Linked DNA regions of Homo sapiens: region 1 is linked to region 2. Evidence: fine-mapped expression QTL. A gene starts in region 2. The other region holds a variant in brackets. All regions are shown on one strand. Distances are between the middles of the regions.

Evidence for each region. PIP is the estimated chance that this variant, and not a neighbour inherited with it, causes the effect.
Region 1: its variant is fine-mapped to the expression of NPTX2 in aorta (GTEx, PIP above 0.99).

The regions. Positions count from the first base shown.
Region 1 is chr7:98,811,654-98,827,587 of GRCh38, forward strand. No RefSeq gene overlaps it. Among named protein-coding and RNA genes, the nearest start is that of TMEM130, 50 kb to the right of the region's middle. RefSeq lists an enhancer at 14,489-15,064. The variant T/G (reference allele first, on the strand shown) is at 7,721.
Region 2 is chr7:98,610,666-98,626,599 of GRCh38, forward strand. NPTX2 (neuronal pentraxin 2) reads left to right here and starts at 6,620. Exons shown (of 5, transcript NM_002523.3): 1 at 6,620-7,222; 2 at 8,978-9,194; 3 at 14,257-14,501. The coding sequence starts at 6,797. RefSeq lists enhancers at 7,448-8,074, 15,671-15,934.

The DNA.
Region 1 (15,934 bases), 200 kb after region 2:
TTGGCGAAGTCCAGGGGATTCTGCTGGGCAGTCAGGGCTGCTGTGCTGCCTCCTGGTCATTGCTGACCCACTCCCTGGCCAGCTTGATTTATCTGCTTCAAAAATTCCTGATGGTATTTGAAAACTGATTTTTTAAACATTAAGATTCAATGTACATTTATTTATTTATTTATTTTTGAGATGGAGTCCTGCTCTGTTGCCCAGGCTGGAGTACAGTGGCTCAATGTCAGCTCACTGCAACCTCCACCTCCTGGGTTCAAGCGATTCTCCTGCCTCGGCCTCCAGAGTAGGTGGGATTACAGGTTCGTGCCACCACGCCCAGCTAATTTTTGTATTTTTAGTAGAGACAGGTTTTCACCATGTTGTCCAGGCTGGTGTTGAACTCCTGGCCTCAAACAATCTGCCCACCTCGGCTTCCCAAAGTTCTGGAATTACAGGCATGAGCCACCATGCCCGGCCACATTTGTTCTTTCTTTTTCTTTTTCTTTTTTTTTTTTTTTTTTTGAGACAGAGTCTCGCTCTGTCGCCCAGGCTGGATGGAGTGCAGTGGCGCAACCTCGGCTCACTGCAAGCTCCACCTCTCGGGTTCACACCATTCTCCTGCCTCAGCCTCCCAGGTAGCTGGGACTACAGGCGCCCGCCACCAAGCCCGGCTAATTTTTGTATTTTTAGTAGAGACAGGGTTTCACTGTGTTAGCCAGGATGGTCTTGATCTCCTGACCTTGTGATCCTCCCACCTCGGCCTCCCAAAGTGCTGGGATTACAGGCGTGAGCCACCACACCCAGCCCACATTTATTCTTAAGAGGTAGAACATATAGTATAAAGATTTCAGCTAGGCACGGTGGCTCATGCCTGTAATCCCAACACTTTGGAAAGCCAGGGTAGGAGGATCGCTTAACTCCAGGAGTTCAAGACCAATCCTGGGCAACATAGTGAGACCCCACCTCTCCAAAAAAATTTTAAAATTAGCCAGGTGTGGTGGTGTACGCCTGCAGTCCCAGCTACTCAGTAAACTAAGGCAGAGGATCGCTTGAGCCCAAGAATTCAAGGCTGCAGTGAGCTATGAGTGGGCCACCGCACTCCAGCCTGAGCAACAGAGCGAGATCTCATCTCTAAAAATTATGTATGTATGTGTGTGTGTATATATATAGCCTATATATGTATATATGTTTGTATGTATGTATATGCATACCTGTATAGGCTATATATATATATAGTATACATATACACAGGGCCTCCCAAATGCCCTGTCTTTCATTGCCTATATATATGTATAGGCAGTGATATAGACATTGTATATATCATGTACATATATCAATGTATATATCATTGTATGTATCATGTATATATCAATTATATATCATATATAGGCTTAATGAATCTTAGTCAGTATGACACGTTTGTCTGTATATATATATAAAATATATAAAATATATATATTGAATGATTGATATTCATTAAGCCAAAAAAATGGAGAAAGGAGGAAATTGCATCCAGTTTTAGCTACACTGGTGAAATACAAATATGTAATTTATGAACCTTCTCCCTGCAACCTTGTCTCTACCAATCACTTGCTTGGCAGACTGTCTCTTCATAGAGGGTTCCAAGGTCAAATCTAAATGATCCATTTTCAATGAGTGGAGAGAATATCCAATGTTGCCCTTCTGAGCAGCCTTTGCCAAGTCACCTCCTGCTCAACCCAGATCCCCCTGTAGGTTTCATCTCTCTGCTCTGTGCTGCCCAGGTCCCCTCCTGGCTGTACTCCTCATCCTGGGTCCTGAGTTCCCAGGCCCAGAGTATCTGAGTTCGTGTCACCTCTTCCTCCCACCCTTGGCTGTGAACTCCACGTCTAACTCATCCTCAAAACCAGAGTCCCCAGCATGCGTTCCTGGAGGATGGATGAATACTGCAGCTTGCCTGAGCCAGCAGCAGTTATGAGAATGACAATCAGATGAACTTGAGAAATGAATGTGACAGGCTGAGACATCGCTACTGAGAGCTTTGATTCATTGTGACGTTCATTCATCCTGACCATCTTACATCACAGTTGAAGAAGCTTTGAAACCCTCTGCCTTTGGGAGAAGCGAAGCCCTGTGGACATTTGCACTCGGAAAAGTTGTTTGTAGTGACCTTCATTTTAGGAAAAATTTCCACCACTATTCTTTATCCTAATTTACACAAAATGTGTATGGGTCTTCAAAAGACAGTAAACAGCCACAATGCCACCCAACACCACAGATTTCTATGCTATGACTCAAAGGATGTATAAATTCCTGAAGGCAGCAACAGGGCTCCTATCATCAAAACAAACTTATTCCAGTCTGGGTGCGGTGGCTCACGCCTGTAATCCCAGCACTTTGGGAGGCCGAGGTGGGCAGATCACTTGAGGTCAGGAGTTCAAAACCAGCCTGGCCTATCTGATGAAACCCTGTCTATACTAAAAATACAAAAATTAGCCGGGCATGGTGGCGCATGCCTCTAATTCTAGCTACTCGGGAGGCTGAGGCAGGAGAATTGCTTGAACCCAGGAGGCAGAGGCTGCAGTAAGCCGATATCGTGCCACTGCACTCCAGCCTGGGTGACACAGAGAGACTCCATTTCAAAAAAAAGAAAAAATTATTCCAAGACGTGATGTGCAGCAATGTTGGGGAAGGGATGCAGAGGGCGGAAAACTTGAGTTCCCAACTCTGATTGTGCGACTTACTGGATCTATGGCTTGGAGCAACCCCTCAGCATACACACAGACACCCATCCTTCTTCAGAGCTGCCTGGGATCTGATGAATCTCCACGTGCAATAAACTTCGTGTGCTACTTGGGGGACACAGTGCAGACAGCAGCCACTGAAGGGGACTCCATGATGGTGCAAGAGGCTCCACTGTCCAGGACATTTGCAAACATAGTGCATGACCCAGGCCTGCCTTCTGTGGAAGAAGGAGGCATGGAGGAGGATGAAGAGAGCATGGAGGGGCTGGATTGTAATATGGAAAGCCCAGCTGGGATCAACGTTGCACTGGGAGCTTTTTGAAAACAGATGGCGTCTTCCATATTGGTGCTGGAGATCCTCTTGGACCTGCCTCGGAGCTGTCACCTGATGGTGGTGATGGTTGTGGCTCTGAAGTCCACAATGGAACCCTCACCCTCTTGCCTCGCTGTGTCCATCAGTCCTGTGTCTTTTCCCCAAGTGTCTGTCTTGGAATGTGTGGCCCAGCCAGGAACATGGGGGACAAGTTTGTCCCCAGACAAGTTTGAGTCCAACTCAGGACAAATTTGTCAAGTGGAATCAGCTCTCACAGATGCAGATTTGCCCCTCCTTTGCACTAGGCAGGCCCACTCTTGTCTCATTCCTGGTTTGGTTACCACTAGTAGATGCTGTGGGTGCAAAGCTAGGTCTCTGTTCTACCCAGGTCGGAGGCAGACTGGGACAACCTACACCTCCCTTGGCCCATCTGGTCCAAAAAGATATGGATGGCCAGGCACGGTGGCTCATGCCTGTAATCCCAACACTTTGGGAGGCCAAGGCTGAGGGATTGCTTGAGGTCAAGAGTTTGAACAGCCTGGGCAACATAGAAAGACTCAGTTCTCTACGAAAAATAAATTAAAAAAAAAATTAGCCAGGCATGGTAACACATGCCTGTGGTTCCAGCTACTTGGGAAGCTGAGGCAGGAGGATCACTTGAGCCCAGGAGTTCAAGGCTGCAGTGACCTGTGGTTAGACCACTGCACTCCAGCCTGGGCGACAAAGGAAGACCCAGTCTTTAACAAAAGATACAGATAGATAGATAGATAGATAGATAGATAGATAGATAATAGAGACAGATATTAGATAGATAGATAGATAGGTAGAAAACAGGCAGGCAGGCAGAAAGACAGATGATAGATAGATAGATACATAGATAGATAAGGCAGGCAGACAGATGATAGATGATAGATAGATAAATAGATAAGATGGGCAGGCAGAAAGATAGATGATAGACAGAGACAGATGATAGATGATAGATAGATAATAGAGACAGAGATAGATGATAGATAGATAGAGACAGACAGAGATAGATAGATAGATGATAGAGACAGACAGAGATAGATGATAGATAGATAGACAGACAGACAGACAGACAGATAGATAGATAGGAGATGGAAGATCAGAGGATTGGGAGAGGTTAACAGAACAGGTCTCAGCCATGAGGACCTTTGCTCCAAGGTGGGATTGAAGGAATGAAAGGCCGGGGTGGGGATGTTCTATCCTGATCTCATAAAACAAGGCAATGTGAACAATCCCCAGCTGCCACTGGACCTATTAAAGACCTAATTTCCATTCACCTATAACTTTATTAGGCTCATCTAAGCTATTCATCAGAGAAGCCTGTCTTGAAAACGGTGCACAGTGGCCCTTATTAAAATGTCTTCTCAGCAGGCAAATGCGTTAGGTTTTATGGCCCCATGCACAGATGTGCCTACACAATGGCAAAGAGCCTCCTCATCACCGCTCAGGCCCAATAGAGGTTGCAGGTGAGACACTGGGATGCCTGATGTCAAAGATGCCCATTCTCATTCATAAGCCCCAGAGTCTAGAGTTGATCCTTGCCATATCCCCATGAGTTTGGGTAAAATTTTCCATCCCAGAGTGCTACTGGCTGACTCTCTTGCAGTGCCAGCCCCCCCAATTCCCGGCTGCCCTGCCCTTCAGCCTCGTGCTGAAGCCAATGTGTATTTTTGGAAACCAGTCCCTGGGTACAGCCTGGAGAGTCTGGATAAGGGGTGGCCAGGCTGCCGGAATATTATGACAGGCGGCTCTGGGAGCACAGGGCTTGGCAGTTGGTGAAAAGTATAAATGAGAAGAGAACAAGAGGCCAGACACAGTGAGAGTTGCTAAGCAGCCAAGAGTCCCAGAGAAGAGAGTCTGTGCCTCTCACCAGGCACAGAGAGAGGTAGGAAACATCCCTGACTTACCCATGAGTTTGCATGTCTTCTCTGCCATGGATAGAAGGCCCTCGTGGAGACCAGTGGAAACAGAGATCAAAGTGAATCTCCCGGGATTGGAGCTGGCTACACAGCTTTGCTGAGGAGCAAGTTACTTAGCCTCTCTGAGCCTCAGTCTCCTCATTTGTACAATGAAGTCCCCACCCTCCATGATGCTGGGTTATTGACAGGGTGAACAAAGCATTCCTCAAGGGGCCTGGTACATGGTGGGAACAGAACTCACATTGGCTTTAGTATTAGAATTAACATAGTCTCCCACGATGGCCAAATGTTAGGGCTTGTAGAGTTGCCAATGGTTCCACACCACACTCAACTGGAGTAAAAAGAATGAGACATCAACTCTTCCAAGCTCATTCCTACCGAGCTCCTATTCACCAAACAAACCAGGAGTTCTGTTCCATCCCAACTGTCTTGGGTTTCACATTTGTCTGCCTGTCCCAGGAAGAATTTTCAAATAATGAACTGTTGTTGACAATAATTGCAATGTTGCAAAAAAGAATATAATAAAACCCCACACATCTGGAAATAATAGTAGTAACCTGTCTCCTGGGTCATTGTAAGGATTAAATGAATCAAATCTCATTTAAAGACCTAGAGCCGAATGGAGTCAGTGAGTGTGTGTGTGTGTGTGTCTGTGTGTGTGTCTCTGTGTATGTCTGTGTGTGTCTGTCTGTCTGTGGGTATGTGGGTGTGTTTGTGTGTGTGTGTCTGTGTGTGTCTGTGTGTGTTGTCTGTGTGTCCATGTCTATGTGTGTATGTCTGTGTGTGTGTCTGTGTGTGTCTGCGTGTCTGTGTGTATGTCTGTGTGTGTATGTCTGTGTGTGTCTGTATGTGTGTGTGTGTGTGTGTCTCTCTGTGTGTGTATGTCTGTGTCTGTGTCTGTGTGTGTCTGTGTGTCTGTGTATGTGTGTGTGTCTGTGTGTCTGTGTCTGTGTGTGTATGTCTGTGTGTGTATGTCTCTGTGTGTGTGTGTTTGTGTGTGTCTGTGTGTGTGTGCACACATGCATGCATATTCAGGGAGGGTTTTCTTTGGGCTTCTGGCTGCCATCATGAAACAAGATGGTGGTGTTATATTTCCCATGGGAAGATCTCTAGTTATTCATAGGGAGTTTCCTGCACTGGCAGTGGTGGAGCCTGCTCACCTCCTGAGCCTAATGCAGTACAGGAAAGCCCCCAAATTGGGGCTTAGTCTGGGATAGTTCATGGCTTCCTTCAGGAAAGAATTCGAGGGCAAGTCGCTGGTGTTAGACAGCAACTTTTTTTTTTTTTTTTTTGAGGTGGAGTCTCACTCTGTTGCCCAGGCTGGAGTGCAGTAGTGTGATCTCAGCTCACTGCAACCTTCACCTCCCAGGTTCAAGCAATTCTTCTGCCTCAGCCTCCCAAGTGGCTGGGACTACAGGCGTGCACCACCACGCCTGGCTAATTTTTGTATTTTTAGTAGAGACAGGGTTTCACCATGGCCAGGCTGGTCTCGAACTCCTGACCTCAGGTGATCCGCCAGCCTCAGCCTCCCAAAGTACTGGGATTACAGACATGAGCCACTGCACCTGGCCTAGACAACAACTTTTATTAAAGTGGCAGTGCACAGCCAGCAGCAGAGGTATTGCTCCTTGCAAAGCAGGGCTACCCTTAGGCGGTGAACCCAGAGCAGCAGCCTGGAGGCAATTCCGCAGTCATATTTATACCACCCACGTTTAATTATAGGCAAATTAAGGAGCAGTTTATGCAGAAATTTCTAGGAAAAGGGTGCTAACTTGTGGATCATTGGGTCATTGCCACGGAAAGGAGCGGTAACTTCTTTTTTTTTTTTTTTTTGAGATGGAGTCTTGCTCTGTCGCCCAGGCTGGAGTGCAGTGGCGCGAACTCGGCTCACTGCAAGCTCTGCCTCCTGGATTCACGCCATTGTCCTGCCTCAGCCTCCTGAGTAGCTGGGACTACAAGTGCCCGCCACCACGCCCAGCTAATCTTTTTGTATTTTTTTATTAGAGACAGGGTTTCACCGTGTTAGCCAAGATGGTCTCGATCTCCTGACCTCGTGATCCGCCCGCCTCGGCCTCCCAAAGTGCTGGGATTACAGGCGTGAGCCACCGCGCCCGGCCAGGAGCGGTAACTTCTGAGCGTTGCCACAGCAATGGTAAACTGACATAGCACACTGGTGGGCGTGTCTTATGGAAAGCTGCTTCCACCGAAGTCCTTTTTTAGCTAGTCCTCAATTTGGTGTGGTGTTTGAGCCCCGCCTCCGGAGTGGAGTCCCACTGTTAGGAATAACGCTCAAAATCTTAAGGAAATTGAACACTCGAACAAAGGATCCTTAGCAAAGCAATTTTGCTTTTGTGCAGAGGGGTGCCTCCTTGGCCAGTCGCCACGAGAGCGCACCTGAACAAAGGGGCACGAGAGCCTTTATTCCTGAGGCAAGTCCTGCCCCTGCACCCTTTTGCCATTGGCCGGGGTTGGGTCGTACAATCTAAACTAATCCCGGTTGACTAGACATTTGATTTTTTTTTTTTTTCTGGATAAGGTGGGCACGTAAAAGAAAGTGGACAGGAAGGGGAAGAGGTGTCTGTAATGATCTGGAAAGTTAGTCTTTTTTGGCCGGGCGCGGCGGCTCACTCTGTAATTCCAGCACTTTGGGAGGCCGAGGCGAGCGGATCACGAGGTCAGGAGATCGACACCATCCTGGCTAACACAGTGAAACCCCGTCTCTACTAAAAATAGAAAAAAATTAGCCGGGTGGGTGTGGT[T/G]GCAGGCGCCTGTAGTCCCAGCTACTCAGGAGGCTGAAGCAGGAGAATGGCGTGAACCCGGGAGGCGGAGCTTGCAGTGAGCCGAGATCGCGCCACTGCACTCCAGCCTGGGCGACAGCGAGACTCCATCTCAAAAAAAAAAAAAAAAAAAAGAAAAGAAAGTTAGTCTTCTTTCCAAATAAGGAAAGGAATGTGAGCTGGTACTGATAACGCCTGGTACTGTGGCCTGCCTGGACATCTAACAAAGGCAAAAAGGAAAAAAAGGAGAAAAAGGTGGGGGGGGGGGCGGGTACTATGGATAAAGGATAAAAGATTGATCAGATTATTTGACGAGAAACCTCATTATATCCCACACCACCTTGTACCTCAAGCCCAGATCCCTACTCTGGCGTCTGATTTCAGGATGGGCATCTCTAGCATGACAGGACTTCCCACATTCTGGACCCCCTGCTGCCTATAAGGTCCCCTTGCCACAGTGAACAAGCAGTGAAGTCAAGGAGTCGGACAGGAGCAGGTCAGGGACCTTAAGTGAGACTGGGAGACCTGGAGGATTTGGGGCAGGGGTGTGGCCTAATCAACCTAGGTCTTAATAGGCTGCTGTGCTGAAACTAGACGGTGAGCACAAGGGCAGAAACAACAGCAATCATTCAGGCAAGAGATGGTGATGACTCAGACCAGGTGAGAGCAGTAGAGGTGGAAAAAAATGAGTAGATTCTGGATAAATTGTGAAGGTTGGCTGGGCGTGGTGGCTCACGCCTGGAATCCCAGCACTTTGGGAGGCCAAGGCTGCCGGATCACCTGAGGTCAGGAGTTTGAGACCAGCCTGGCCAACATGATGAAACCCCATCTCTACTAAAAATACAAAAATTAGCCAGCCGTGGTGGTGGGCCTGTAATCCCAGCTACTCAGGAAGCTGAGGCAGGAGAATCACTTGAACCTGGGAGCCGGATGTTGCAGTGAGCTGAGATCGCGTCACTGCACTCCAGCATGGGTGACAGAGTGAGACTCCAGCTCAAAAAAGAAAAAACAAAAAAAAAGAAGATCTTTGAATCCTCCTATGGCCTGTGGGCTCCTGCTTTGAGATGTCTCACCTTTTTAGGTGAAACCAAGGTATAACTTCCATGTATTGATTGACAGCTTTGACTGTAACCTCCCTCTCCTTGCTTGGAGCCCCGCAATGAATGCCTTCACTTCTCCCACTGCAAACTGTGGTGTGGATGTTTAGCGTTACTGTGCTGGGTGAGAGGATCTCAATTTGGTTTGGTAACAAGACAAGCTCAGAGAAGGATGGTAGTGGGCAGTGGGTGGTGGTGATCACTGGATCTTCCACTTCCTCTTCCTATTTCCTGAAACGTCTCCCCATAGGCACCTGTGGACCCACTGGTCTTCCAGCTTTGTTCCCTCGCACCTCCTCATTCCAGCCTTCCCATCTCTGTTGATGGCAACTCCACTTTTCTGGTGTCTCAGGCCAAACCTCAGGGAGACCCTGGACCTCTCGACCTCTCGACCTCTCTCATGTTTTCTCAAACCTCACCTTCAATCTATTCACAAATCCTATTGGCAACCTTCACTTTTTTTTTTTTTTTTTTTTTGAGACAGAGTCTTGCTCTGTTGCCCAGGCTGAAGTGCAGTAGCGCAGTCTCGGCTCACTACAACCTCCACCTCCCGGGCTCAAGCAATTCTTGGGATTAAAAGGCATGTGCCACCACACCCGGCTAATTTTTGTATTTTTAGTAGAGACGGGGTTTTGCCATGTTGGCCAGGCTGGTCTTGAACTCCTGACCTCAGGTGATCTGCCCGCCTCAGCCTCCCACAGTGCTGGGATTACAGGCATGAGCTAACATGCCAGGCCAGGCATGGACTTTGAGGGTGGGTCGTGGAGGACCTGTCCTCCTGGCTACGGGCCCACTAGAAAGCCCTCCCTGAAGATGCGATAAAGCAGAGGCCCTATTAGGGGCCTGGTGGGCACCCTCCCCCTCCAAGCATGGAAATAAAGGAAAATCTTGAGTTCCTTCAAGGGAAAGTTCAGGCACCTAGCTAGTCCTGAGCAGTAAATGAGCAACTTGATAACCAAAAAGGTAATAGTAGCTTAAAGCAATAGCCAAGGAAATCACAAGATGTTTAGTTCCTGATGGGAACCAAAGATGTCCTTGAGTTTTTCAGAAACCTGGGCTCCTGCCAAATGGACCTGCTGCTGGCAGGTAGACCTCAGATAAGGGGGAACTGAGCACTGAACTCTGACAGTTCTTTGTTCTAAATTTCTTCCTGAGGGGCCTGGAGAAGGTCATACCCACAGACCAGAGCTAACATTCTTTTCTACTCTCCCCAATTTTCTTTTTTGTTGTTGTTGTTGAGATGGAGTCTCGCTCTGTCACCCAGGCTGGGGTGCAGTGGCGTGATCTCGGCTCACTGCAACCTCCACCTCTTGGGTTTGAGTGATTCTCCTGCCTCAGCCTCCTGAGTAGTTGGGATTATGGGTGCGTGCCACTACGCCCGGCTAATTTTTGTATTTTTAGTAGAGATGGGGTTTCGCTGCGTTGGCTAGGCTGGTCTTGAATTCCTGACCTCAAGTGATCTGCCCACCTCGGCCTCCCAAAGTGCTGGGATTATAGGCATGAGCCACCATGTCAGGCCCTGTCCACAATTTTTTAGACAAAGCCTTGCCTCCTTAACCAATCACAAATAGAAAATCTTTGAATCCTGCTGGGCAAGCTGGCTCACGCCTGTAATCCCAGCACTTTGGGAGGCTGAGGCAGGCAGAGCACCTGAGGTCAGGAGTTCGAGACCAGCCTGGCCAATGTGGCAAAACCCTGTCTCTACTAAAAACACAAAAATTAGCCGGGCGTGGTGGCACGTGCCTGTAATCCCAGCTACTCAGGAGGCTGAGGCAGGAGAATCACTTGAACCCGAGAGGCAGAGGTTGCAGTGAGCTGAGATCATGCCACTGCACTCCAGCCTGGGTGACAGAGCGAGACTCCGTCTAGAAAAAAAAAAAAAAATCCATGCCTGCCAGCACATTTCTCAAAGTAGAAAAAGGAAAAACCACCTTCGGGGAGGAGCTCAGAGCTGACTTCTCACTGCCAGCAGATGACACAGCCCTGGACTTGTCTCCTAAAAGGCACAATGACACCTGGCCCCACTGCCTTCTCCTTGACGGGGCCCTGACTGTGGCATGGCACCTCTCAGCCCTCAGCCTGCTCAGTCATTCTGCACAAAGTTTACTTCTCCCAGTAAAGCCAGAATTCCTCTCACTTCAGAAATAAAATGTATACATCTGCTGGTGGCCTCACATCCCTTCTCTGCGTTCTCAGCATGAGGCTCAGGCTTTTTATAATTCATCAAAAAGGCCACACGTAATGAGCTCAGTTCTTACTCTGCAACTGGGACGTCAGCTCACCTTTTAAGAACCCCGCACCCAGCCAAGGCCCCTTAGATCTTGTCCTAAAGCTGGGGATGAGTCACCTGTGAATCAGGCAGCAGGCTGAGCCAGCACTGCTCTCCAGGGGCCGCCTTCCCTTCCAAAGGACTAGCCTGTGTAAGGGGCCAGGCTGGGGGCTTCCCTACCTTCCTTCATTCGTTCATTGAACAAGAGTTTATTGGCCGGGTGTGGTGTCTCATGCCTGTAATCCCAGCACTTTGGGAGGCCGAGGCGGGCAGATCACCTGAGGTCAGGAGTTCAAGACCAGCCTGGCCAACATCACAAAAATATGTCTCTACTAAAAATACAAAAATAAGCCAGGTGTGGTGGTGGGCGGCTGTAATCCCAGCTAGTCAAGAGGCTGAGGCACAAGAATCGCTTGAACCCGGGAGGCAGAGATTGCAGTGAACCGAGATTGCACCACTGCACTCCTGCCTGTGCGACGGAATGAGGCTCCGTTAAAAAAAAAAAGAGTGCATTGAGTGCCTGCTGTATGGCAGGCCCTGGACTGGAACCTTTCCTAGATGCTCTTTTGCATAATCCCCCTCCTGACAATACTAGAAGGAAGGTGCTCACATGCCCATTTTGCAGATGTGGACACTGAGGTGCTGAGAGGTTTTAGTATCTTGTTTGAGGTCCCTTGACTTGTGTGTAGTAAAGAATTAACCTTATCCTAGGCCAGGTGCAGTGGCTTACGCCTGGAATCCCAGCATTTTGGGAGGCCAAGGTGGGAGGATTACTTGAGGCCAGGAGTTTGAGACCAGCCTAGGCAACATAGCAAGATATCATCACTACAAAAAAAATTTAAAAATCAGTCAGACATGGTGGTGGACCTGTAGTCCCAGCTACCCAGGAGGCTGAGGCAGGAGGATTGCTTGAGCCCAGGAGTTGGAGGCTGCAGTGAGCTCTGATCACACCACTGTACTCCAGCCTGGGTGACAGAGTGAGACTCCATCTCAAAAAATAAACAATTAATTTAAAAATAAAAATAAAAGATGGCCAGGCACGGTGGCTCACGCCTGTAATCCCAGCACTTTGGGAGGCCGAGGCAGGTGGATCACTTGAGGCCAGGAGTTCGAGACCAACCTGGTCAACAGGGTGAAACCCTGTCTGTACTAAAAATACAAAGATTAGCCGGGCGTGGTCACGGGTGCCTGTAATCCCAGCTACTCAGGAGACTGAGGTGGGAGGATTGCTTAAGCCTGGGAGGTGGAGGCTGCAGTGAGCCAAGATTGCACCACTGCACTCCAACCTGGGTGACAGAGCGAGACTCTGTGTCAAAAATTAATTAATTAATTAAAATAAAAAATAAAAATAAAAAAAGAATTAACTTTATCCAAAGAGTGGTATGGCTTTTACCACCAGCTCCCGGGAGGTGAGCTCTAAGCCCTTAGAACATCCTGTCTGGTAAGAATGTCTTCGTTTACCTGGGGGCCTGGGGCTATGCAATCTAACAACGTACATGACTTATGGTGGAGGCTTTGGGCTACACAGCATCAGCTTGACCTCCAGAGGGGATGGGGATTGTCAGCCACATCAGGCATCAGCCATGTCTATATGACCAAGCCCCAGTAAAAACTGGACACCAAGGCTCAGGTGAGCTGCCCTGGTTAGCAATACTCCATGCACGTCGTCACGCATCATTGTTGGGAATGCTAGCCATGACTCCAAAGGACGGGACAACTGGAAACTCCATGTGCTGAATCCTCCTGGACTCTGCCCCCTGCATCCTTTCCCTGCGCTGATTTTTTTTTTTTTTTTTTTTGAGACAGAGTCTCACTCTGTCGCCCAGGCTGGAGAGCAATGGCGTGATCTCGGCTCACTGCAAGCTCCACCTCCCGGGTTCATGCCTTTCTCCTGCCTCAGCCTCCCGAGTAGCTGGGACTACAGGTGCCCGCCACCATGCCCGGCTAATTTTGTTTTTTTGTATTTTTAGTAGAGACGGGGTTTCACCATGTTAGCCTGGATGGTCTCGATCTCCTGACCTGGTGATCCACCCGCCTCGGCCTCCCAGAATGCTGGGATCACAGGCGTGAGCCACCGTGCCTGGCCTATTTTTAAATTTATTTTATTTTATTTTATTTTTTGAGATGGAGACTCGCTTTGATGTCCAGGCTGGAGTGCAATCTTGGTGTAATCTCGGCTCACTGCAACCTCCGCCTCCCAGGTTCCAGAGATTCTCCTGCCTCAGCCTCCCGAGTAGCTGGGACTACAAGCATGTGCCACCACCATGCCTGGCTGTCTCTTCTAGCTTCTAGTGACTGCTGGCAAATCCTTGTGTTCTTTGGCTTGTTGACCCATTGCTCCAATCCCTGTCTGTCTTGTCATATGGCTTTGTTCTCTGTGCATGTCAGTGTTCTAAGCTCTTCTTCTAAGGACACCTGTCATTGGTCTTAGAGTCTTCCCTAAATCCAAGATAATTTCACCTTGAGATTCTTAACTAATTATACCTGCACAGACCGTTGTATAGTTTGGATGTTTGTCACCTCCAAATCTCATGTTGAAACATGATTCCCCATGTTGAAGGTGGGGCCTGGTGGGAGGTGTTTGGGTCGTGGGAGTGGGTTCCTCATGAATGGCTTGGTGCCCACCCTATGGTCATGAGTGAATTCTTGCTCTATTAATTACTGTGAGATCTGATTGGTAAAAAGAGCCTGGCACCTCCTCCTCACTCTCTTGTTCCCTCTCTCGCCATGTGACCTGGCTGCTCCCACTTTGCCTTCTGCCATGATTGGAGGCTTCCTGAGGTTCTTACAAGAAGCAGACACCAGTGCTGTGCTTGCACAACCCACAGAGCCGTGAGCCAAATAAACCTCTTTTCTTCATAAATGACCCAACCTCAAGTATTCCCATATAGCAAAACAAAATGGACTAATACAGGCCAGGCGTGGTGGCTCATGCCTGTAATCCCAGCACTTTGGGAGGCCGAGGTGGGTGGATCACGAGGTCAGGAGTTCAAGACCAGCCTGGCCAAGATGGTGAACTCCTGTCTCTACTAAAAATACAAAAAACTAGCCGGGTGTGGTGGGGGTGCCTGTAGTCCCAGCTACTTGGGAGGCTGAGGCAGGGAATCCCTTGAACCCAGGAGGCAGGGCTTGCAGTGAGCCGAGTTGGCGCCATCGCACTCCAGCCTGGGTGACAGAGCAAGATTCCATCTCAAAAAAAAAAAAAAAAAAAAAAAAAAAAGTAGGGGGAAGAATGGATTAATACAACCCTGTTTCCAAATAGTTACATTCTGAGATCTGGGTGGACATAAACTTTTGAGAAGGACATTATTTAATTCACTATATAGGTGATTCCCCAAATAAAATCTCTCTTGACTTCTGATTCCAAAGGACCTGAACTAACACAACCCAGTGGGCCAGGTTCCATCCTAGGCACTGGAGCTACAAAGGTGGAGCACCCAGTCATGGCCCCTGCCCCCACAGGACAGAAGACATGGGAGTCAGGCAGGTGCTAAGGGCCAGATCTGGGAGGGAGGGAAGGAGAGAGGGAGGGAGGGAGGTGTGCTCCCCTCCACACAGCTTCCCTGCCTCCCCGCGAGGGGCTCTGGTCCCACCGCTCTTTGGAGCCAGGCCCTGGCTTCAGGGTGTACGTGCTCAGGAGGCTGCCGTGTTGATGAAAATACCACGGAGACGTCTGCAGGGTTCTTCCTCTTGCTGCTTCTCCTGTGCCCGAAATAAATGAAAAAGAGATGTTCCTGGCAGGGTCTGCGGAGAAGCTTCGTGGCAGGAATGAAAATTGGCCGCAGCATCCAAGAAATCCTCGAACGGCAAAGGGATTTCTAGGACAACACACCTCTAGGAACAGAGGATGTCGGTGGTGAGAGCTGGAGGCGGAGGCAGGCCTGCCGCCCCAGGTGTCTGCGTGTCTGCGGTCGCACCGTGGTGTGCACACCTACACAGGTGTGCGTACCTGCTGGCCGTGTGCAAGCACGGGGGCGAGTTTGGGGAACCCAGCTGAAATCACAGCACAGACTTTCTCCCACCATTGGCCCATCTGCCAGCCTCTTCCTCACCCTCAAGCCTGCCGGCCATCTGGGGTCACCTTGTCCTGCCACATTTCAACAACACTGGGCTTGGTGCCCGTCGGCTCTCCGGGGATTCTCAGCAGGCTGACACGGCTCCAGGCCCATCTGGCACTCAGTTCTGGCTCTCGCTGAATTCTCCATCTGCCCTGCTACAGGGAGTGCCCTGTGCCAGCCGTCCTTCTCGGCCAGACGTCACATCCACAGAGCTTCAGGGACTCAACGCTGCCTGTAGGCGGCTTTTTCCGGGCTCCAGCACAGCCCTGGACACCTTTAAACTGAAACAAGGCCACCTGGCCCTGGACGTCCCTCAGCCAATCCTGCCTCTGAGAGCTGTCCCTGACCCCTTCTCCTACCCCCTCAGGACCTGGTCTTAACACTCCACTTTTCATCAGAATGGCCCATCAGGGGGTTGCTAACCCCCTCCCCCACTCCCCACCCCCATCTCTAACGTAATCTTCCCCATCAGCAAGGACTATGCCCCCTTCCAGCCCTGCTCCAGGTGGCCCTCAACTTCCTCCCCTAAGACACTGGATCCCTCCATCCTCCCAGAAACAACCCAGAGGGCCTGGCATAATGGCTCATGCCTATAATCCCAGTGCTTTGGGAGGCCAAGGCAGAAGGATCATTTGAGGCCAAGAGTTCAAGACCAGCCTGGGCAACATAGTGAGACCCTCCCCCACCCATCTCTACAAAAAAGAAAAATAAATGTACCCAGACATCGTTGCATGCACCTGTAGTCCTAGCTACTTGGGAGGCTAAGGCAGGA
Region 2 (15,934 bases):
ATTTGCATAGAGAAATAATGAAGGTTTCTGAGCAGTGCAGATCAATGCTTTAGTGCTGTACTTCAGGAAAACTGACCTGGCAATAGAATGTACAAGCTGAAATGGACATTGTAGAGCTGAATCGTTCAGTTAGAGGCAACTGTATAGTTTAGAACAGAAGTAATGAGATTGTAGCAGTGAGAATAGAGTTGGCATATTGTACAAGCAGAATTAGGACTTAGAAATGCACTAGAATTTGAATAAAATTGGGGGTGGAGGAGATACAGATGTCTCCAAAGTTTTGAATTTGAATGACTTGGAAAGCATTAATGACATAAGAAATAGGAAACAGGAGGAAGAATAGAGGGAAAATAAAGAGAACAATAAATTTACCTGACATATTGAGTTAGAAGTATGGGTAGTTTATCTTTGAGATGTCCAACATGCGGTTGGTTTATTATAATCTGGAACTCAGTATAGATAGTTTCTGCTACGGTTTGTGTCCCTCAAAATTCCTGTATTACGTTTACCTATGTAACAAACCTGCACATCTGGCACATGTATATCAGAACTTAAAGTTAAAATTTAAAAAGTTAATGTGTTAAAAACTTAACCCCCAAAGCAACAGTTTTGGGAGGTGGGACCAAGTATGGATTAACTGGGTCATGAGGAGGGAGCCCTCATGAATGGACTATTGCAATCATCTTAGGAGTGGGTCAATTATCACTAGAGTGGGTGGTTATAAAAGCAAGCCCAGCCCTTGGTAGTTCTCAGATATATGCACTTGCTTCTGCCCTCCACCTTTCCACTATGGACCAGATACCAGCACCATGCTCTTGGACTTGCCAGCCTCCAGAACTATGAGCCAAATAAACTTCTTTTATTTACAAGTTACTGAGCCTGTGGTATTCTGTCATAGAAGCAGAAAATGAACTAAGACAGAATCATTAATATAACTTAAAAACTTCAAACTGTTAAGGTAGAGAGTACAGTGAGAGAAAGGAGAGAGCTATGGACAGTTCAACTTTGAATATGTGTGTTGAGGAGGCAGGTAATGAAAGAAGGTCCAGAAAAGAAGAAAGAAAGGAAAAAATGTTCAGAAATCAAAGAAGAAAACCAGAAGAATACAATATCATAGAAACCAATGTTGGAAAATTCTAATAAAAAAGACTTAGCCAACAGTGTTCAATGCTGATGAGTTCCAGGAGAATGACAGAAAAGGGGACATTGAAATTAATGGCAAATTATTGATTTTTAAGAAAGCAGTTATTGAAGAAGAAACCAAGCATTCTAATAGGTTAATGAGTATGTTAGGGAGTGATACAGAGAAAAGAGCCCTTACTGGAAACCAGAGGGCCTGAGTTCCAGCATGGCCCTGCTGTTAAGTAGCCCTATGATCTTTTTAGCATGGTTTTGAACTTATTTTGTGGGGAGGGGAAGTCTTTACTTTAACATAATTTTAATTGACATGTAATAATTGTACATATCTATAGGACACAGAGTGATATTTCAATGCATGCATACAATGTATAATGATCAAATCAGGGTAATTAGCATATCAATCACCTCAAACATTTATCATTTCTTTGTGTTGGGTACATTCAAAATCCTCTCTTCTAGCTATTTGAGAATATATAATAAACTATTGTTAGCTATACTCACCCTACAGTGCTGTAGAACACCAGAACCTAGTCTTCCTATCTAGCTGCCATATGACATTTTAACCTTTCTCAAACTGTTTCCTAGTCTTCAAAATTCTATAAAATATCTTCAAACTCTCACTTTCAAAGATTCATACAAGCTACCTGTGTGCCTGAATCATACAGAGATATTGAGCCACATGTCTTTATCAGAAATAGGCCAATTTCACCACTTGTAAGTTATGTGAAAGTGGGGCACTTTCTTGGTGTTTCCTAATATAGAGAAATTGAGACTACATTCATAGAAGATTTTCTCAAAGCAAACTAAGTTGATGATGTTCCTTCCTTCAGCCTCCTCCCACTCCCAGTCTATTATCCCTTACTTTTAAAAACTGAGGTAAGACATTATCCCTGGTATATCCGGTGACTCGTTCTATTGCTTGAAATCAGAGGATGCCACCAAAAGCCTTTTTTGGTTTGTTGAAATCAGTTGAGTAATATGAACAACCAATTCCCCTAAATCACGGCTCTCTAGCTAAATGTGATAATATACTTGTACAGGGACACCACTTCCTGAAACTCAGTGTCTCATCTCACATGCTCCCAAAATTTAGCCAGAAATATGTTATTCAAGAAGAACACAGATGCACTGAAGCAAGAACATTTTGCTTTATCTGAGGGGCTTATATCTATTTGGGTCCCGTAGCAACACAAATTCAGAATCACTGAGATGTTAAATATTACAAATTTTTTAGTTGGGTCCAGGCACATAGTCTGGTGATATATCCCAAGTGTAGGTGTGAAACAGTTCACTTTGACTGAATCCTCTGATTAAAGCTCAATAATACCATGCTTTATCTTTTTTTTAAAAAAAAAAAAACCCACAAAGTAGTATATCTTTATCTTGCTGAGACACCAGTATATTTTCCTGAAGTTTTCATCCCTTGTCTTTCCTCTTGGGAGGCTGGCCTGTTCTTTCTTAAGTATTCTTGCCTTATTTAACTCTAAAGAATATTGCAGAAAGGGAAGAATTTTTTTCAACTTTGTTTTTAAAGGGACTTACATAATACAGGTCTAAATTCAGTGGAGAAAAGGGGAAGAAAAGGACAATTATCATCTATTGTGCACTGGCTATATGCCAAACATGTTCACTTACATTATCTCACTCAAGCCTAACAATATTTTGTAGTAAATTTAGCTTTGATTTTAGAGATGAGAAAACTGAGGCTGGGAGAGGTTAAATCATTCTCTCAAGGTAAAGTGGCAAGTCATAAAACTGGGACTGAAACTAAAGCTGTCTGACTCCAAAGCTCAAGCTCTTTCCACACTACCATGCAGTTCAATCTAGTGGGGAAAAAAATCCACTCTTGAAAGCGTCTTAGCATTTTAAGCATAAATGTGTGTTAGTAGGGATCCTCTGGAGCTTCCAAATTCTATTTTATCTGCACTGAACTTTACACACACACACACACACACACACACACACACGTCTATTTCCCCCTTCCAATTGAAATTCAGCACCGAGGACAGTTCCCGAATCATGTTTGCAGGAAGCTGTCCTTGGATTCTGTTAGAGCTCACACTCTCATTCTTGACTTCCCAAGTGGCACTGAGAAAGAGAGAAGGAAATGTAAGAAAGTATGAGATGGGATCCTCTCACACCATGGTGGAAATTAGCACATTTCCCAGAAGACCAAGATAAAAATGCATGTGAGAAGAACAAGAGAACCAAACAGATGGGGCAATAAAATGGAGGCGGAATGAGCTCATCAGGATTCCCAGCACACGGTTTAAGTCCATACTGGGCTCACAGCTGACCTGGGACCAGCCGACATAGTGAATGAGTGGGTGGTTACTATGCTGCAGCATCAGTTACACTAAGAGATTAGGTGGAGCTGATTCACTGCTGCAGATCTGCACGACTTTTCAAGTGGAGGAAAATCTGTGGGCCCTGGTCTCTGCCACTCACATAACCATCCTCATGGGTAGCATGAGTCATACATGCAGGATCTTTCAGGTAGACAAAGTTGTTGTGCTGTGAGTAAACCCAGTATGAGCTTTCGTGTTGTCGAAAGCAGGTTTTAACCACAACTACGGCGTCTCCGTGTATGAAGGTTTACCTGCTGTACTACAAAACGACCCTGCCTTTCCACATTCACCTTTGGCTACAGGTGGTTAATAACACACACAGAAAAAACAAGTTTCTGAAACGTTCCTCACACCAACAGTGATTCCTTCTTTTTCAAACTATCATGCTCTTGAGTACAGCCAAAGCACCTTTAGACAGTTGCGTCTAATCCCCTTATCTTTTTAAAATTATTATTATTATTTTGAGATGGAGTCACGCTCTGTCACCAGGCTGGAGTGCAGTGGCATGATCTTGGCTCACTGCAACCTCTGCCTCCTGGGTTCAAGCGATTCTCCTGCCTCAGCCTCCCAAGTAGCTGGGACTACAGGCGGGCGCCACCACACCCAGCTAAATTTTGTATTTTTAGTAGAGACGGGGTTTCACCATGTTGGCCAGGATGGTCTCGATCTCTTGACCTTGTGATCTGCCTGCCTCGGGCTCCCAAAGTGCTGGGATTACAGGTGTGAACCACCGTGCCCAACCCCCGCCCCTCCCTTATCTTATATGCAAGAAAACTGAAGTCCAGAGGAGAAATGACTTGCCCCAAACCACTTAGCTAGTGACAGAGTTAGAATTAGCACTAGATCCCTCATTCCTAAGCCAGCAGGCTTTTCATTGCACCAGGAAGATAAAATAAAACTGTAAATAGCATGTACTCTGTTAACTAAGCCTCTAATTATACTGCCTCCAAAGAAAATAACATTTCAAATGTCTGGGTCTTTCCATTTGAGCTTTGGCAATTTCACTGATCACTTCTCATACTGGAATCTCTTTTAAGACGTTTAGGAGTAATTATATTGGGATATATGCTATTTTTACTCTTGTACACTGCTTTCTTTGTTCAGGAGGAAATTAGAATTCTGGAAAGATACTTGATTTTGTTTAATTATTAAAGGAACAAGCTTCTACTTCAAGTAGTTGCAAATATGAATGTATCAGTCTGTGTGTCAAGAAAGGATATATGGAACAATACAGGAACGATAATACTCTATTGTCACATCCAATTAAGGGCCACCTAGGTCTACAAGTAAAGAGGAACATCAAAGCTATGAGTGAAAATGGAAAAGTCACATCGTTATCTGAATAATTTTGAAAACGTCTGGATTTGGTGCCTTATGAATCATCTGAAATGTAACAAGGCATAAAGTGCTTTGCAACCCTGTTGCCTTCATTATTGTAATTTGTGCATATGTAGGTTTATTTGAACTTTTTCGAGTTTTCATCCAGCTGAAAAAGGATGTAGGAAGAATGAGTCCAGTCAAGGTCATACTTAACAAGGTGAAACTGACACCTCCTGGGGATGCAGGCTAACAGAAACATGAGCCCATTACTCACCCCAAATCTCCCATCCATACCTTTTTCTGCTAATGAATATTCTTACCTGAACCATCATTACTTCCATTGTCCTCTGCTTTGGATACCTTGCAGACCAGGTTCCTGTCTCTCATTTTTATCCACGAAGAGATTTTCAAGAATAGAACTTTTCTTATAATTTAGCAATAATGTCCTTGAAAACCCCACAACTATTTACATAATAGAAGCTATTGTTTGAAGTGCAAAGCAGGTCAGAATTTGGTTTCTAGAGATTAATCACTGCAGTCTAGTTTATATTATCATAATAATTTCATTTATTTTGGTACAATTTGCTTTCAGAATCAACCTCGGCTTCTGCGCACAAGTGACAAATCCATTTGTTTGTGGTATAATGGATAACGTGATTAATGACCTTGCAACAGGATTTCTTAAAAACATAGAGAGGAAAAGAAATAAAGATTTCCATTTATAAATGTGCAGTAAACCAGCTCAGTCTGTAGCTGTGCACCAAAATCCCTCTGAACTTGTTTTAAGCCACAGATTTGGAGAGATTCTGAAACAAATTTGCTCCTGACTTTTGGGGGTTTCTGCTCATATCTGCTGTCTCCAAGAAGCTGAGGGCAGTGGCCTCACTTCGAGGAAGTGGTGACACTGCGGGCCCTCCTGGTTACAAGGACCGGGCACTGTTGGACCACGTGGCTCCATCATGATGACTCCAGTTAGATGTCACCCCGCCCCTGAGCTCAGGTCTTGCTGAATAAGGTCACCGCCCAGGGGGCAGTCGATGAACACGCGCGCGAGGGCTCTGCGAGTGGCCTCGTGACTTTGTCCCTAACTCCGGGTGTCCCCTCCTTCCCATCAGCGTCCGGCGCCTGGTCCTGGTCCCGGTCCCCGAGGCCCCCGGGATTCTTCCCGAGCGTTTTCCGAGTTGGCGCGGGGGGTGGAGGCGGGGCCATGGAGCGCGTCCCGGGGACCGTTGCATCCGGAGGCGGCCGTCGTGCGGCTCCTTCCCGCCTCGAGAGTGAGGTGGCCGGGCCTTGACGAGAAGGCCCACGCCTGCCGCGGGGGTGGCTCGCGATGGCAGTCGGGGTTCGAGTCCCGCCTGGGGGGCTGCTCCTGCTGGAGAAAACGCCTCCCTGAGGGCGGCGGCAAACGCGCAGCGAGGCCCCGTGCCGCGCCAGAAGCCACCCTGAGAAAGGGGCACCGGGACACCGAGGGGTTCCCACTTTCTCCTCAGCCTGTGACGCCCGCGTCCTCGGGTGGGTTCGAGGGGCGCCTGGGCACGGCCAGCCGAGGCTCTCGAGAGCCCCAGTGTCGTTTTCCACCTCAGGCCTCCTTTCCTGAGGCAGAGCCCGGGACCTCGCGCTCTCGCCTCAGGCTCCGGCCCACGCTCCCGCCCGGCCGCCAGGCGCGCAACGGAAAGCGCCCCCGCCCCGCCCCGCTCCGCCCACTGCGTGACGCGCACCCGGCCGAGCCAATCAGAGCTCGTGGCGCGCGCCCCACACGCCGGCCCCCTCCGCCCCTCAGCTTAAGAAAGGGCGCGCGGACCCGGCAGGCCAGAGTGCCGAGCAGCGCGGTGGGTGCGGCTGTGAGACGGCAGGAGACTTCTGCCCCGCGGTGCACGCGACCCTCGAGACGACAGCGCGGCTACTGCCAGCAGCGAAGGCGCCTCCCGCGGAGCGCCCCGACGGCGCCCGCTCGCCCATGCCGAGCTGAGCGCGGCAGCGGCGGCGGGATGCTGGCGCTGCTGGCCGCCAGCGTGGCGCTCGCCGTGGCCGCTGGGGCCCAGGACAGCCCGGCGCCCGGTAGCCGCTTCGTGTGCACGGCACTGCCCCCAGAGGCGGTGCACGCCGGCTGCCCGCTGCCCGCGATGCCCATGCAGGGCGGCGCGCAGAGTCCCGAGGAGGAGCTGAGGGCCGCGGTGCTGCAGCTGCGCGAGACCGTCGTGCAGCAGAAGGAGACGCTGGGCGCGCAGCGCGAGGCCATCCGCGAGCTCACGGGCAAGCTAGCGCGCTGCGAGGGGCTGGCGGGCGGCAAGGCGCGCGGCGCGGGGGCCACGGGCAAGGACACTATGGGCGACCTGCCGCGGGACCCCGGCCACGTCGTGGAGCAGCTCAGCCGCTCGCTGCAGACCCTCAAGGACCGCCTGGAGAGCCTCGAGGTAGCGGCCCGCGGGGAGCGCGGGGGACCTGGAATGGGGACGCTCCCGAGTCGGGGGCGGAAGACTCGGGAGGATGGGGAAAGGGGGCCTGGCCCTGGGGAGGGTGTGATCGTCCGTGGGGGTGAGCTGGACTTGAGGGTGAAAGGCGGGGATCTAGATCCTGCTCGGGAACTCCCCTGCGTGGTATCCCTTCCCACACCGCTGCTCTTGCTGGAAGGAAACGTTTAAATTCCACCCCCGCGCGTCGGGACTGCCAGCGGGATCCGCCGAGCACTTCCCGAGGTCCGGGCTAGCGAACCCAGACGGCCAAGCCGCGGGCGCCAAATACCCGGGGACGCGGTAGCCTCTATCCTCTTGCAAATCTCCAAATCTCCGCGAGCCGGGATGCGCTCCCGCAGGCCGTGCGGGTTGCTGCGAGGCTGCCGCGGGAGGTCAGCTGCCCCGGGCATGTGGTGTTTCTTTCTTTAAATCAGGTCAGGCTGAGCTAGAGGGGGCGGAAGTCTGGGGGCGGAGGTCGCAGGGAGGCGAGCGCAGGGGGTCACCGGCGACCCCAGAGCGCGCATTAGAGGGGCAACCTCTGGTTAACTTCAAAGACTCCCGTGTCTGCAAGTTGGACCATTTTAAGGTGCTCTTCCGGATTGCTTCAGGGGAAGGGACCTCATTCCCTTCTCTCTCTCTCTCTCCCCCCCTCCCCCCCTCCCCCTCCGTCCCCCCCCCCCGCCCCCCGCTCCCGCCTCCGTCTCATCTCTATCTCTGAAAATGCGTGCAGTTTGGAACTTTGAGAGAAAAATCTTCAATTATTTTTCATCTTTAGGCTCCACCCTTTTTAAGAAGTGTGGACACTGCTGTTAATAGCCTTTGTGAAAATACTTCTCAGCAAAACTAGGTTTAAATTACAGGTGGTAATTATTGCAAAAATGACTCTAGGGTTTCTTTTGGCGTGAGGGCTGAATACAGTATTTCCAGCATCTGTATATCCCCTGATTCATTGTGATTGCTAACAGCTAACATTTCTGGAGCACTAAATATGAGTCAGGCACATCATTTAATTTTTTAATCCTTGGAACAATGAATGGCATGAGGCAGGTCCCATTATGTGCATTTCACAATTTGGAACACTTTGTGGAGAAAGGTAAATAGCTTGCCATGAACTCATGGGTAGGCAGCCTGCCACAGCCTCCAGAACCACATGATGGTAGGGGAGAAAGAGAAATAGGAAGTGAGGATTTAGAAACAGCATTAAAAACAAAGATTGCTGGAGTTCAGAATAGCAACGTTTTAGATCTGTCATTTTCCAGAAACATCTCTGCATGCATAGTTATTTACCTTGGTGCCAGACCGGAACTTGGGGGCTGTTTTCATTTCTAGGTGAAAGCTCCTTGGCTTTGTGTAACCATCGATTTACTCTTAAAAAAGAAAAAAAATCCTGGAGCTGAGTTTTGGTCTCTACCCAACATAGAATTCTAGGCGTTGGTTAGAATATTGACTTTTTAGTAAGAGGAGAAAAACGGCTTTTTGAGAAGGGAAAATTAGATTCACAAGTTTCAAATATTGCAGCAAAGTAATTCTTATCTGACTTTGAAATCTTTTCCATACCAAAAAAGCATCAGTGAGATGCTCCCCTGCCTGCCAGTGGCAAGATTCAGGGCTTGCGTTTTGGAAGCTTCTCCCTGTGTGGTCGGGCCATCACAGCCACATTTCACAATTTCTTTTTAACTCTTTCTGTGCCCCTCCCTCCTCCCCGGTGGCTGAAAGCACCAGCTCAGAGCAAACGTGTCCAATGCTGGGCTGCCCGGCGACTTCCGCGAGGTGCTCCAGCAGCGGCTGGGGGAGCTGGAGAGGCAGCTTCTGCGCAAGGTGGCAGAGCTGGAGGACGAGAAGTCCCTGCTGCACAATGAGACCTCGGCTCACCGGCAGAAGACCGAGAGCACCCTGAACGCGCTGCTGCAGAGGGTCACCGAGCTGGAGCGAGGTGTGTGCCTGGCCTGTTTCTCTGTCTGGCAGTGGCCTGATTTTCACCACTTGTGGTCAGACATGCGATTCTGGTTGATGGACAGCAGGGATTGTGACACCACATGGGCCTGGTTCCCGAGTGTGTGAGCAAATAATAAAGGCGACTGAACAAGGTCATCTCAGGAATGAGCTGCCAGCCCCACTGGCATTATCCAGGGAAAAGTGAAAGTGTCCAGGACCAGCTTCGATAAGCAACCACACGGGCGTTTCAGTCCTTTGTTAACTAGTCCTGGCAGCGGATTCTGTGTATCTTTCTCTTCTCTGCTCACACTGTGGTGAGTAAGTTTCTCCCACAGGAGACAGAGTGGGAGGGATCAGGGGATAATTCAGATTGCGTCATCAACCCCCAAACCACTGGGTGGCTTGGGTTTGAAGTTGTAGGTTTGCCCGTAGTGGGTGTTTATAAGACTGGAATTTTCCCAGATGCACTAAGCTGATGAAGCCACTTCCCCATGACTCCGTTTCATGCATTGATAGGAGGATGCCCAATAGCAGAACATCCAATGACTTTGGCCGAGGTGGGGCAGATGGAGAAGGGGCTGGTGTTACTGTTCCATTTTACAGCCAGCATCCACAAGCCACAGGTCTCTTTCATCCCTTTCCTAGTCTCTTCCTACAGAAAAACCTATCCTTTCTTCCTGGCCCTTCTCAGAAAAAGGTGAGTATGGCTTACCTGTTAGATCTGTTAGATTCTTGAGTTTCCAAAAAATCTTCCTTTCTGTCTCCCCTCTGTTGCTGGGTGGCCTCAGGAGCCATCCCTGAAGGTAAAGCAGCCGTTGCTGTGGCCCTCCTCCCATGACAGGAGGAGGGAACGTCTAGGCACAGGTGAGCGTGGCTCCGTGGACCCAGCCTGAGCCACAGTGGATCCTCGGGACACCCAGGGCTATGGAGTTGGCACACTAAAGGTAGTTTGCCTCTCGAAAGGGGAACTGTGGAACGAGAGGAGGGCTCCATGAGAGACCTTGGTGGCTGTAAACCTCCCTCTGCACAGTGGCCAAGTTGCCATGAGGAGGTGGGTAAATAGCAGAATAGTGAGCCAGAGCTTCAGTCATGCCAGGCGGGAGCTCAGACTCCTGGTATGCCCGTTTCATAGATGAGAAAAAGACTCCGTTCTCAGTGGGACATGTATCTTTTGGGGAGGGGGCCCAAAGTGGGTCCTGGGCCACTAGCTGGCAAACAGTGACAGTCACATCAACCTGCACCTCCTCCTTCTCTTTCTCTCACTCAAGGCCAATGTCATTTCACTGGGCTTACTCCTAAGGTAAGCCATCATCATGGCTTTGGCCACCCAGAAGCTGCCACTTTGTGACTGTCCCTTTCATCCCCAGCCTGTCCATTACCAGCCAGAAAGAAACAGTCAGGACTCAGACCCCGCCAGCCTGACTCCTGACCCTTTAGTTTCCCAGCAAGCCCTCAAAGCTCATCTGGCACAGAGGGGAAGCTCACCTCTACGAGGGCAAAGACGCTGCTGGCCATTTATGCACCCCAGAGAGGCAGCCCAGCCTCTCTTCATCCCACCGTGGGAACTCTAGAATCCTTCTGTGAGCTCCACCAACTCAGCTCTGGGATGTGCTTTAAGGAAAGTGATCATTTGCAGACCAGTTTGTCTTCTGGGCAATTCTGAGTGTCCTGTTTGTGACAATTGTAGAGAGATGAGTAAACGCCCAGCCCTCCACATGTACTATGATTGGAAACGATGCCAAGTTTCTTAGACACATCCAGCTGAACCCAGAGTAGCTAGACCTTAACCTCACTACAGGCAGGGGGCCTTGGTGGGGGAACTCTGGCCTTTGGTCTGTCAGCCTCCACCCCTTAGGGACCAGATGCTTGGCTGTGAGTTCCACACTTGGCATTCTGTAATCCCTGACATGACCTTGCAAGGTAGGGATTAGTTCAGACGAGGGACTCAAGTCAGAGAACTAAAGTGATGCCTGCATTCACATTGCCAGCAGATTGCAGAGCTGGGAGTGAAGTTGGTGGGGCCCCAGAGGAGTGATGGAGGCTGCAGCCTGGAGCGGTGTGTGGGCCCCAGCCCTGCTGCGTCGGAGGCTCCTTGGAGCCCCCAGCAAGCGCCTGACCCCTGGCATATGGATGCCCCTGCCACCCGGGGCCCAGGGTTGCTTGCTTTTCTTTGCTGCAAGACCTGTTCCTCTGCAAGGGCCTCCAGAGTCCAGGCCAGCTGTCCAGGCACTGCCCAGCTCAGTGTTGAAATAAATGTTGCTGCTGAGAAAACCAAAGCTGCCTCTCTTCCAGCCCCAGGCTGCCCACCCCCTGCTGAGCCTCTCCGCCACCTGCAGTGTCTGATTTATTGGTCAGGCCTTTTAATTCCTTAATTGGTTTTAACCAAGTTTCCTCCAAACCGCCAAGCTGTTTTATTTAAATAAAAGACACTGGCTCTCAGGGTACAGGCCCCCTCCTCTGCCCCTCGGCTCTTCCAGCTCTAATTAAACCTATCTGTTGTCACCAAGCTAACAATATTACCCACACGGAGTCGTATCAGATTGGCAAGGCTGCCCTCCCGCAAGTATAGCAGCCATTTCTCTTTATTAGACAATGATGCCTTCATTAAGGACATGGTCATTTGCCACTTGAAGATTAAGTGTGAGTGGCTAAGTGTCGTGGAAAGAGGGACTTCCGGCCCCTGGCCTGTCATTCACTAGCTGTGTGACCTTGGATACGTCACCTCACTTCGCTGAGCCTCCGAGCCTCAACTGTGCAACCTGCAAAAATGGGGGAGTAGGGACACTCTGGTTCTCTCTCTCAGTTTTGCTTTTCAGCCTAATGAGAGACTAGTCCCAGCCTTCACTCTGGCCTGGCCCCTTGACTTCTTCGGGGAGCAGGTCTTCCCAGCCCTCGCCAGGTGCCCAGCAGCTCTGCAGTGGCATCGAGAGGTGCCCATCCTTAGGAGGTCAGGAGCAATCGGGAGGCCACCATTGGCAGATATGAGTACATGCAACACGTGAAGCCCAGATTCTAGAATGTACACACTGCCTGTTCCAGAGAGGTTAGAAAGGGGATAGGGGGTTCTTCTGTGCCCCTTTGCAGAAACCCTCCTTAGATAGATGTGAACTGCGGCCCCCAAGAGCCTTTCGTGTGTATTATTCACTCTGAGGGACAATGAGTTTGGGGGATTGTGGTGGAGAAAGGTTTATCTATTCTGGCTCATGTTGTGCAGTAGGGACTGATTTAACTCCACAGTGACACAGGCAGTTCTGGCTCCAGAGAGCCCGCCTGTCTCTGATGGCCTCGGAGACTGTCTGAGCCCTTGTGGATGCTTAACCGACACTTGTTGAATGAGTGAAGGGCGTTTAGATTCCTTCAACGGCAGGGTCTGGTTCTCAAATAAGAGGGCCGCCTTTGCCATGACAGCTGGCACAATCAAATGGTGTCCTGCAAACTTTGGAATCCACGATGCCTGGACAAGGGCTGCCGCTGTGGTTTACTTAATTTTGAACTTCAACCAAGGCTGCCTTGGAAATATTGTAAACCCATTCTAGAGTTTGTTTTCAAGGATTTTAGAAGTGCCAATGACATAGGGGTGGCGGGTGGATTCTCACCAATTCCAGGAAGGTCTGGAAGGGCCAAGGCTGTGACCAGGTGTGTTCCCCTAAATGAGGAGAGACACCTGCGGTTGCCCTGCCTCCCACTGGCTCCAGACTACAGGAAATGATCAATAAACTCAGTCTTCTCTTGAGGAGGAAAAGAGCAAAGTGCTTTTTGTCAGGGATTTAGACCAAAAAGCCACTTTTGAGTTAAGTTATGGAGTCAAGACCCGGGAGCCTGACTGCTTCACCTCGGCAGTGGTAATTCTTTCATGTGAGGAGTGACACAGACTCATTCACTTGACAAGTGTTTATTGGGTGCCTGGGTCCCTGTAAGACTTCCTTCTTCTAAGCCCAAGTCTCCAGGGTTCCTAGATCCTGCGAAGATTTCAAGGAAATATCTGAAGTTATAAGATGTGGCTAAGGACGCAGTTTCTGGCTTAACACAAGAAAATTAAATCTACCTTTCTTCTGCTCCTTCCTCAAGCTTTCTAGTCACCTAATATGACTTATGAAAAGAGAGTATTAACTAGAAGGAACCAGACAGAGCCTCTGTCACCCAGGTGGGAGTGCAGTGATGCAATCATAGCTCACTGCAGCCTGGACCTCCTAGGCTCAAGCGATCCACCTCAGCCTCCTGAGTAGGTGGAACCACAGGTGTGTGCCACCCTACCCAGCTAATTTTTATATTTTTTGTAGAGATGAAGTCTTGCTGTATTGCCCAGGCTGTTCTTGAACTCCTGGGCTCAAGCAGTCTTCCCACCTCAGCCTCCCAAAGCACTGGGATTACAGGCATGAGCCACTGCACTTGGCTAATTTTTTAAATTTTTTGTAGAGACAGGGTCTTGCTATGTTGCACAGGCTGGTCTCGAACTCTTGGCCTCAAGCAATCCTCCTGCCTCGGCCTCCCAAAATGCTGGTATTATAGGTGTGAGCCACTGCACCCATCCAAGAGCTTTTTTTCTTCTAGATTTCAAGAGGCCTCTTTTCCTGTCCTAAAAGATGGAGCTAAATTCTCTAACGTGCCCCATGCAGTGCCCACAAAATCTTCCTTTTCTTTCCTTTTCTGGGCGTCCTTGGGGCCCTGTACTTGCTGTCACCTGTGTCTGGGGTTCTCTTCTGCAGGTCTTTCCAGGCCTTCCCTGCATCCTCTGCCTTCCCTCCCCCGGCCACTCCCCGTCTTAGCAGGAGCCACTGCCTGGACTTCCCTCGCGTACCTGCTGCTGGTTTCATGTCACCTTCCCTGCCTGAATGTAAGCTCCCTAAGGACAAGGACTCCATCTTGTGTCCTGAATCCTGCCAGACTTCAGCCTTTTATCAGTGGCTGGTGTGGAGCGGTCTTTGGTCGCTTGCTGGAGGGTCCATCAAGGCTGTGTGAGGGACCTTCTTGTGGGTCTAGCAAGATGTGGCTCTGGGCCGTGCTGGTGGGTGGTGGGGTGGCCTAACGCACTCCTGGCCTCTCTTCCTCCCAACCCCCAGGCAATAGCGCCTTTAAGTCACCAGATGCGTTCAAGGTGTCCCTCCCACTCCGCACAAACTACCTATACGGCAAGATCAAGAAGACGCTGCCTGAGCTGTACGCCTTCACCATCTGCCTGTGGCTGCGGTCCAGCGCCTCACCAGGCATTGGCACCCCCTTCTCCTATGCGGTGCCAGGGCAGGCCAACGAGATCGTGCTGATCGAGTGGGGCAACAACCCCATCGAGCTGCTCATCAACGACAAGGTGAGGCCCGCCTGCACCGCCACCCTCCCCAGAACCCATCATGTGGTGGAGGGAGCCACAGCCCCCACCCCAGCCGTCCTCGCCCTCCTCGGGCCACACAGCAGTGTCCCAGACATGGGACTGCGGGGCTGTCCTCCTCGAGGTGGGGATAGCTTTGCACACGCCGGGCGGCTCACAGGGGCGGGGTGGGGAGGGGCCGAGCTGTGAGTCCAACCACCAAGCTGCAGAAGGTCCAGGCACCTAGGCCATGGAAGGGCAGAAGGAACAGATCTCCGTGTGCAGCCTGGATTGAGAGAGGACCTCAGGCCGGTCAGTGAGGGCTGTTCCCCAGGGCCACACTGATTAAGGGGGTGTGTGTGTCTCAGTGTAAGAGACTCCCCACAAGCATATTTTGGTGGGGGTCAGGTTTCTAGAGATATAATTTACATACAGCAAAGTGTACCCATTTTAATGTACAATTCAGGAAGTTTTAACAAATGCACACAGTTGTGTAACCACCACCACGATGAAAAAATATAAAACAGTTCCATCACCCCCCAAAACCCCCTCATACCCCTTCATAGTTAACTCTGATCCCAGCCCCAGCCCATGGCCATTGCTGACCTGTTATGTATACCCATGGTCTTGCCTTTTCCAGAGCAAATGCCCCTTCTTAATAGACTGCTTGGTTTTGGCATTCAGGAGTGGTCTTCTCAAGGGCTGGGCATGGTAGCTCATGCCTGTAATCCCAGTGTGTTGGGAGGCCGAGGCAGGAGGATTGCTTGAGCCCAGGAGTTCAAGAGCAGCCTGGGCAACATAGCAAGACCCCTTCTCTACAAAAAATTAGAAAGTTAGCTAGGTGTGGTGGTGTGCACCTGTAGTTCCAGCTACTCGGGAGGCTGAGGCAGGAAGATGGCTTTGAGCCCAGGATGTCGAGGCTGCAATGAACTATGATCGCACCACTGTACTCCAGCCTGGGTGACAGAGCGATACCCTGTCTCAAAAAAAAAAAAAAAAAAAAAAAGGCCACTTTGGGCCTCCTGGGGACCTCTCACAGCCCTGCTTCCAAACTTTCATTCTAATGGCAGACTCCATATAACAAAAAGAACATTCTCAGAACCTGTCCGGATTTGGGCATTTGAGTGGCTACGCAAACTCCCTGCCACCCGGGCCACCCCTGGTGGAGGCGGGGGCAGTTCAGCCCCTCACTCTGTTTGTCCTCACTGAACTGCCCTGGGTGGAGTCTGTCGAGGTTTAAAAAACGCTGTGGCATCAGCCTGCTGGGCTCCTCCTAGATAGACCCCCTTGCCTGAGCCAGGGGTTAAATAATTGTTCTAAATAACACCCTATGACACAGTGGGGCTAAGAGCCTTGTTGTCCTCTGGGTTTGGACGGCTTGTAAACATCGAATTCCTGGGAGGGAGGCTTCGGGTTGCTAGGAGACCAGCAGCAAC